Linked DNA regions of Homo sapiens: region 2 is linked to region 1. The links come from fine-mapping of genetic effects on gene expression. A gene starts in region 1. The other region holds a variant in brackets. All regions are shown on one strand. Distances are between the middles of the regions.

Region 1 (4,238 bases):
TGCACACATGTCCACATGTGCGTGTTGGGGTGTGCACATTGGTGTGCAGGCACATGCCATGTGTGTAGGTAGGTGCATGTGCTGGTAGATCCACATGTGTCTGTAGCACCTGTCCCTGTGGTGCTGTGTGCCCTTGGGCATGCCACACAGGTGTGCGGAGTGTGGGTGTGTGAGCATCACAGGGCAGGGGACAGAGCACCGATCCACAGACCGGGATCTCACGTGCTTTGTATGCAGAGAACAGAGAGGAGCAGCCACCCCGCCCCCCGCCACCATGCCCCACCCCTCTATGGAGCCCAAGTCGCCTGCCAGCAGAGCCCAGCTCATAAGTCCCCGTCCCTCTCTGAGCCTTGGTTTCCTTCACTGCAAAATGGGGTCCTCATCCTCCCTAGGGCCCCATAGAGAGGATAGGAAATGAAAGCTTTGTGAGTGCGGGAAACATGAGGGTCCCCAGGTGGGACTGGGAGACACTTGGCCCCCACACCCTACAGCCTGTGGAGCTCTGGGGCAGGGAGGGCTCCCCCAGCCTCAGGAGAGCCCAGGCCCTCCTTGGCTCCCTCCCCAGCCTGTGGTGGTGGGGGCAGGGGACTTCCCAGGCCCGGCCCCTGTAACTATAGTAACTAACACCAAGCGTTCCCTTGGACCCCCCAGGAGGAATTCCAGGCTCCGAGAGCTTGGACAAAAGCAAAAAGGGCTTGGCAAATGTGGTCTGGCTTCAGGGAGCCCTTTCAGATTGGCCTTGGAATGCTGGGGAGGGGGCAGCAGGGGACACACACATGTTCCCAAATCCCCAGCCACCCCACAGGGACCCAGAGCATCCCCAGCAGCCCTCAGCACAGGCAGGGCTACCGCACAAATGGAGGGGTGCGGGCAGGCACCCAGCTCCCTGAGTCTCCCTCACGCTTCTCCACTCAGTCCCGAGTTGGGGTCGGCTGTGCACATCCCACACCCCTCATGTTGAGAGCAAAGACCTAGTTCAACCCTGGACAACCTACACCCCACAGCGTGTGCTAGGACACAGCTCACCACACCCAACTCCTCGGACACAACTCACGGCTCACCCCAGACAGCTCATCCACCTCCCAACTCTAACACACCCACAACCTGTGCCCCACAACCCAGCATGCGACACAGAACAAGCTCTGGGGTGAGGCTTATGCCACCTGCAACTCCCCAAACTCAGCCCCTAGAAACCCAGAAGTCCCCCAGCCCTTTACAGGATGCAACACAGCACCTCCCAAAACACGCACCCCATCCCTCACCCGCATCAGCTCCCCCAAATCATGCCCAGCCCCCGATCCCCCAACCCCGAAACTTACAACCCCCCTCAACATGAAACAGCCCCGAGCCTCAGAACACACTCACCTCCGTGGAGCCCCACAGAGTCTGGGGGCCACAGCCGCGCACTCCTGTGCACCCCACAGCTCAGGCCTGCACCCACGCGGACCAGCCCACCCACCACCCCAGCAGCCAAGGCTTGGGGTATCTGTCTTGGGGGACAGACCCTCTCCCAGGCCCCTCCAGACATGGGCCCCAACTCACCAGCCAGGAGGGAAAGGGCAGGGGCCCAGAGCAGCAGTAGCAGGACAGAGGCCAGGGCCTGGGGGTCCGGGGTCCCAGGCCTGGCCAGCGCCATGGCAGCCCGCTCTGCGCTCTGCTCGGCTGCTGTGAGAACGGGAGGGCGGCCTGGCTGGCTCCGCACCCCCCTCGTCCCTCCAACCAGCACTAATGCTGTGGACAGAGGCCCAGCCCCTCCCTCCCCTCCCCGCCACCGCCTCCTCCTCCCACCCAGGCCTCCTGGGCTGCTCCACCTCGTGGACGTCCCTAGACATCAGCCCCAAGTCCTCAAGCCCCCTAGCCTGTGGGGCTGACCTGGTCTTGGCACCCACTGGTTTCTCCCTCCTGACCCTCTGCCCCACTCTCCTCCCACCTCTCAGGTCAGCCTCCTTGGAGAAATTTCTGTCCTTGGAGAGGGGGCTGTTCAGGACTCTCGTCTCACCAGGTGATGCCAGCTACTCCCAAGTCCTTAGTTATCCCCTCTCCTGGATCCCCCTCCCCACCTCTCCAGCCCGGGCCTCTCTCCCAAGCCCAGGCCTTCGAGTCCAGTCGCCTCCCAGACCCTGTCTCTGCTGGGAAGCTGCAGCCCCTCCCACCCAGCTCGTCCCCCCACCTGCTGCTCCCCAGTGCTCCCATCGGAGCCAAGGCACCTCCCATCGGGCAGCCCAACGCCCCCTCCCCACTCCCCCCTCCCCACACTCGGTCAGCCCCTAGCTCCTGGCCATGCCACCTTCTCAGTGTCTCCTGCTGTCCCCACCCCGTCCCACCCGACCACACACAGCTCCTCCCACCATCGGCCTCAGGATCAGCTCCCTGCAGGGCACCTCACCCCTGCACCACGGTGGTCCCTGCCTCCCTTTACCCTCTCCACCCTTCACCAGCCAAACTGAACCTTTCCCAGCTTTCTTCCACTTGACCTTGATCTCTGGCTCTGCTGTTTGCAACTCCAGCGACCTCACTGCAATCCAAAGCAGCCCATTCTACTGAAAGGCAGCTCTAACCAAGCAAGCATTGCTCTCCCCTGCCAGGAAGTCCTTCTTGTTGTCTAACCTTATAGTCTCCTGCTGCACTCGATGTTTGCTTGCTCTCCAGCTGGCCTCTTGTTGGGGTGGACAGGAGGAGCTCTTCAGGGGGACCTGGTTCAGGAAGCCAGGTCATCTCAGAGACACTACAACATAGAACAACATTCCTTTCTTCTACCACCCTCAGCCCCAGTGGGGAGAGAATCCTCTTGCTGAAGGGACTTTCCTGAAATGAGCCACCGGCCCCTGCCAATACATGCCTGTTTGTCCCTATTCAGTAACCGTGGATACAGCCCACGCAGGCCCTGGGCTCTGGGATGTGTCCCTGACACGGGAGGACACAGCCTGGAAAGACAGCAGGAGCCATTGAGGGAGGTCCAGATGAGCTAGAGGGATGGGCAAGGGTCCCCTGCAGTGCAGGGGAGGGAGCAGTGGGCACCACACAGGCCCTGGCCGACCCTCTAGCCCGGGGCAAGTGCCACAGCCCTGGGTCCCCAGGGACCAAAGGAGGGAACCCAAAAAGGCCTGGGTAGACTCCTTATCCACTGCCCCTGCCCCATCCCTGCCCTTGAGGCCTGTTCTCTCCAGGGCAGGGATTGCCCCTTGGTTTCTGGGACACTAACCTCTCTCAGTCCATCTTTAATCCCCTGCCTCTCCAATACAACAGGATCCCTCTCCCCAGGTGGGAGAAGCCCCTCTCCATGCCACAGGAAAAGCAGAGGCCTCACAGCGTAAGAGATCTGGGTTCGAGCCCAGCTCAGCCACTGATTAGCCGGTGACCTCAGCACGTGACTTCCTTCTCTGGGCCTCAGTCTCCTCACCTGTAAAATGGTGGCGTTAGTGAGCCAAGGCGACAGTGCCAGCTCTCTTTATCCAGCTTCTCAGTGATCCCCCAGAGACCCAGGCAATCCCAATGGGGGGCTGGGGGGAGCACGGCAAGTCAACCACCACCCTCTGGTTCTCTGGATGCACAGACACAAACTCCCACACTTTCACAGAGCGGGGAGGTCACCCGGCGCAGGTCCAGTCTCCTCTGCAGCCCGGCCCCCAGCACTGTCCTGCAGCCGCCACACTCCACCTTGTGGCCAGACCTGGAAGTGTCTTGTGAGGTCTGGAGGGTATGGAGGGGGGCTCCCCCGACAGCACCGGGTACAGGAGTCCCACGTGACGGGGAGGAAGCCAGGGAGTCGCTGGACAGCAGGCAGGACGGAGGTCAGACAAGGGCACACCATCTTGACCGCTCCCTGGTCCGGATCTGGAGAAGGCAGTAAGAGTGGGCCAGCTCCTCTGAGATGGTCCCCCAGGTGCATCCACTTCCCCTGTCCTCCCCACCTGGGAAGGGAATCGACATAACCTCAGTTTACCCCCCCCCCACCCACCAGCAGCACTGCAAAGTCAGCATTGGCCCCATTCTATGGATGAGGAAACCGAGGCACAGAGAGGTGAGCAGCCCAGCACCAGTGCCTGGCAGGATTCGAGTTGGGTCTGCCCGACTCCAGCCTTTCCACTGGTGAACCTCCGACTGCAGGTTACTAACTGCCCCTCCACTAGCCTGAGCATGACTTGCTGCCACCTCCCTGGCTGAGGGGACGCTGTCCTGGGCCGGGATTCCCACCAACTCTCAAGCTGATGGGCACATGCGACAGCAAGGTTCAGTGG
Region 2 (4,238 bases), 21 kb before region 1:
AGCCAGCTTTCATCTGCATGTTAGGTTCCACATAAAATATCCTAGGAGTTACAGCTGACACAGGTTTTCCAAATCTCTAACTTAGTAAACTGACCCTGGAACCAGCCGCCTCCTCCCCACGCTCCCAAGGGTTGTAGAGAAAGTTCAGGGAAAGGTGGTCCCACCTCCTACAGGATAAGGACCAAGCAAGCCCCTGAGCCTGGTGTTCAGGGCCCTCTCTATCCCAGCGTCTGCTGACTTCCCAGTCCCATGTCCCAGTCCCCCACGTTGTCACGTGGCTCCCCACATTGGACTGGACACCCATGCCTCTGGGACCCGCCAAAACCAAAAGGAAAAGCTGACTGTCGACCCAAAAGTGTAAACGGATCTACTGGCCTGGGAAGCAGGAAGGATGAAAGGGCACATCTCCAGGTCCATGAAGCTGGAAGGAGGCCAGGCCCTCAGGCAGGTGCCCTTCAGGGATGGGAGGTCACAGTGTGATGGGCATCGCCGGGGAAGGGGCTGGGAGCAAGCAGCAGAGTCTCCTCTGAGTCGGCCTCTGCAGGCCCAGCCCCGACTCAGAGGCAGCGCCAGTGTTCACTGAGCCCCTGTACTCAGCAGACAACCCAGAGGGCTTCCTTCAAGTCCTCTCGCCGAGTCTGTGTAGAGGCAGCCAGTCATCAGGGGAAGGAGTGAGCTCACCAGGCTGCTAGGAAGGACCGGAGCTGGAGAACCAGAGGTGGTCAGGTGAGCTGGGGGGGTTCAGGGCAGGAGAAGGGTTGCTCTGTCATCCTCATCCCAGAAGGACACCCAGACGGTCCTTCCCATCAGACGGCAGTTGAAGACTTCCAGATTCTTTCCCCACTGTCGTCCTCTCTGATCCTCACAACAGCCCTGTGAGGTAGGCAGTGGGTGCCTTCCCCCTTTGACAAATGACCACAGCAGGGTGGGAAGCTCCAGGCAGCCCCTCCTCTGCTCCCTCGGGCTGCTCCGGCTGAGGGGGCGGGTGGGTCTGTGGTTCCCTCGCATGACTGGCTCTGGCTTCTGGCAGACAGACCTGCCTGAAGGGACATTTGTTCTAGGAGCCAGAAGCCCACTCAGCCTCTGCTAGTGGCCTTCCCTGACTTCCCAGCTGCCTCCACAGCAGGAGCAGCCCCCAGAGGCGGGGAAGGAGGTGCCTGGGCAACCCCGGCCTGGCCTCCTGGAGAACATGCAGCCTTGGGCCGCCCCTGCCCTAGGACTGTAATGGTTGACCCCATGGCGCAGCCGCCACCTCCTGGGATCAGCTACACCCATCACAGTCATAGACACACAGTAAACACGGCAGACACGCCCTGGAGCCATGTCAGGACACACTCACACTAGCATCTGCAGACTAACACAGGCCCAGGTACACACTCACACACACACTCCTCCAGATACACACACTCCTGAACACACTGTGAACCCACGTGTGCCCTCCCACGCACAGCCGTACACCTGCCAAGGCGGAACCCCGAGGGTGGGATGGAGAAGTCCGCAGCCTCTCTAGGCCTCTGTTTCCCTGAGTTGCTCCCCTCGTCCTCCATCCAGGATGGGGCAGAGGCAGAGGCAGAGGCTGCCAGCCAAGGGGACACTTCCGTAGCAATGTCCCGAGCCCTGGAAGCAGCTTCCTTGGGTCTCCAGGTAGAAACCATTCAGGACCTCCAGGTGCTGGTGCCAGCAGCCAGGCTGGCCTAGATGAGTCTCTCCTCCGGTGGCACCTTGAGGACACTGTCCATCTCCAGCCGGGCCCCAGCCACCTCCTGCTGGCTTGGGCTGTAGGTGCCCTCAGACTGGCGGCGCTTTCGGGCTGCCAGGATCCCTGAAAGGAGGCCCAGGAGGAGGAGGAGGAGGCAGGCACAGGCTGCAGGTACGGCCACCTCCAGCAGTGGGAATGGCAGCGGCAGGGGCAGGCCCTTCTGCAAGAGACACGACACCGAGGCCTAAGACCGCAGAGAAGGGGAGGACGCCGGGGCCCTCAGAGAGCAGAGAGCGCAGCACAAGGACCTACTCAGAGAAAATCAGAGCTGGGAGCAGGCTGCCCTGGGAGCAGTGAAGACCCAGCCCCAGGGGTATGCAGGCAAGTGCCAGGAAACCACCTGTCACAGCCACTGCTC[G/A]GGGAGGCCTATACAACAAAGGAGTTCTGGCTAGAAGGACAGAGATGGGCGTTTATTGAACACCCGGCAGGAGCTAAGCAGGGTGCATGGGTTTCACAGAAGCCTACGAGGGTCTCATGAGGCAGAGCAGGAGCAGGGGCAGGCTGAGCGGCCCCCTGCCACAATAGCAAGGTCAGAATCCACTGGGGCCCACCTGCGGGGGCAGGGTGGCAGGGGGGCCGAGGGGCTGTTATGACAGCTTGTCCCTGCGAGCCTCGGCCCAGGCTTCGGGGAGCCCAGCAAACCTCCCTGGTGTCTCCAGTCACAGGCTCCCAGGATTCCCCATCAAAGCCTCTACATGCCTGGGACTCTGTAGTCCCAGGATGCGAGGATTCCAGAGGCATGGGCTCTGGGACTCACCAGCCTCCCTCTGTACCTCCAGGCTTCCCAGCCCACTGTGACCTGGGTCCTAAAACTTGACAGGAAAGTTCCTCTGGTCCTGAGAGGGTCCTGCCAGCCTCCACCGTTGGACATTTTGAGGGAGGAGCTGTAAAGCCATTTCCTCCCCCTGCCCTGGGGAGGTGGCTGGGTAGGGAAGCCAGAGGCTGTAAAAGTTCAACTTGAAAGGAAACATTCCCCGTAAGCGGAGGGGATTTGTGGTTTATGACCCAGGCTGCCAGAAGCCTGTAGAGATCAAGGCTGCTCCCCAGACTTCCCTTCCAAGCCTCTCCTCGCCAGCACCCACTCCCCCCACCCCGCCCCAGGAAGGGGTGTGGCGGGGAGGTTCACAGCTCCAGCGCCTGCTGCCTTCGTCTGTCCAGGCTCCTCCTGGGCTGAGCCACCCGGGGTTGGGGCCAGCCTGCACAGCGGGCCGAGCCTGCTCCAGTGCGGACTCCCAGGCCCCCTGCCCCTCCGTGTCTTCCTACTCAGGACACTGGCTCAGAAACCCCTGGAGATGAGTCTCCTGGATTCACCAACCTAAATCCCAGAACACCAACATGGCCCTGAGTCCTGGTTGGATTGGCAGAGACCATCTGTCCTCACTGCCACTGCCCTGGGCACTCTGAGGAAGCCGCTGACCCAGCTAGGAGCTTTGTGCTCTTGTCAATAGACGGTGACAGCCCCCAAAGCTCTCCCTGCAGTGGAAATACCTCTTGTGTGGGGGGTGTGGAAGGGACCTGAGGCTCCTCTCACTGCCCCACCCCATGACAGAGTGGCCCAGGAACAGCCCCATGGTGCTGCGCTCTCTCCCCAGCAGCATCTCGCCAAGGGCCCAGCAGGCCACGTCCACGGCCCCTCACCCCTGACAACACTCACCGCCACTTCACAGAACTGGCCGGAGAATCTGGCATTGCAGATACATTCAGACACCCCTCCAGCTGCCCGGCAGGTGCCCCCATTCAAGCAGGGGTTGGCTTCACAGGGGAGAGTGGGGACCTGACACCTGGAGAGGGAGGGGGGCTGAGAAAGCGGCTTCCCCCATGGCTGCCTCTTGTGCTCCCAGCTGCTCTGCTGCCCATCCCCACTTCAGCAAGCATCAGAGCTTATCCATCCACTGTCCCCATGCGCTGCTCCTGCCCAGCTGGGCCCTGCCAGGTGACCACCTGAGCAGCCGTCACTGAGAAGGACTCTCATCCCATTAGGGTGACGGGAGCCTGTGTGAAGGCAGGTGCCCCAGACGCTGACGCCACTGTCTGCAGGGCCCAGAATCTGCACTTTTATGGTCTCCCACAGGCGGGCTGAGGCTGGGTTTCCAGAACTGCCACCAGGCAACCACTGCCCAGCAGCAGTCTGTATCACAGAGGATGGTCTTGCGAGTCATGGAAGGAAACTCAAGTGACAATGGTGACTGTGATACCAGGGAGGGGTGAGAAGGTGGGCGAGGACCCCCGCCCCACCCTGGCTGGAGGAACAGCCCTCCACATTCATTGGACCTCCTCACAGTTCCCAGGCCCCCAGACCCACCTCTGGCCAGCAAGACCCTCCAGGCAGCTGCAGTTGGCAGCGGGAGAGCCACCCTCACATGGGCTGCCATCGAGGCAGGTGACATTCAGGCTGCACTCCTTGGATGGGACAGGCAACCTGGGGAGAGAGCAGAGGCTGGAGTGGGTGCAGGACACCTGGGACCTGCCCTCCCCAGCG

What was found. PIP is the estimated chance that this variant, and not a neighbour inherited with it, causes the effect. A credible set is the group of variants that fine-mapping cannot tell apart.
Region 2: its variant is the best candidate, but not a certain one, in a credible set for the expression of CRB2 in uterus (GTEx, PIP 0.74).

Annotation. Positions count from the first base shown.
Region 1 is chr9:123,353,659-123,357,896 of GRCh38, reverse strand. It overlaps CRB2 (crumbs cell polarity complex component 2), which reads right to left and starts at 1,700. Exons shown (of 13, transcript NM_173689.7): 1 at 1,543-1,700. The coding sequence starts at 1,636. RefSeq lists enhancers at 1-19, 3,400-3,569, 3,238-3,737 and silencers at 3,700-3,749, 3,770-3,879.
Region 2 is chr9:123,374,519-123,378,756 of GRCh38, reverse strand. It overlaps CRB2 (crumbs cell polarity complex component 2), which reads right to left. Exons shown (of 13, transcript NM_173689.7): 11 at 4,062-4,178; 12 at 3,414-3,540; 13 at 4-1,919. The coding sequence ends at 1,695. Among named protein-coding and RNA genes, the nearest start is that of CRB2, 20 kb to the right of the region's middle. RefSeq lists enhancers at 1,817-2,434, 2,435-3,053. The variant G/A (reference allele first, on the strand shown) is at 2,118.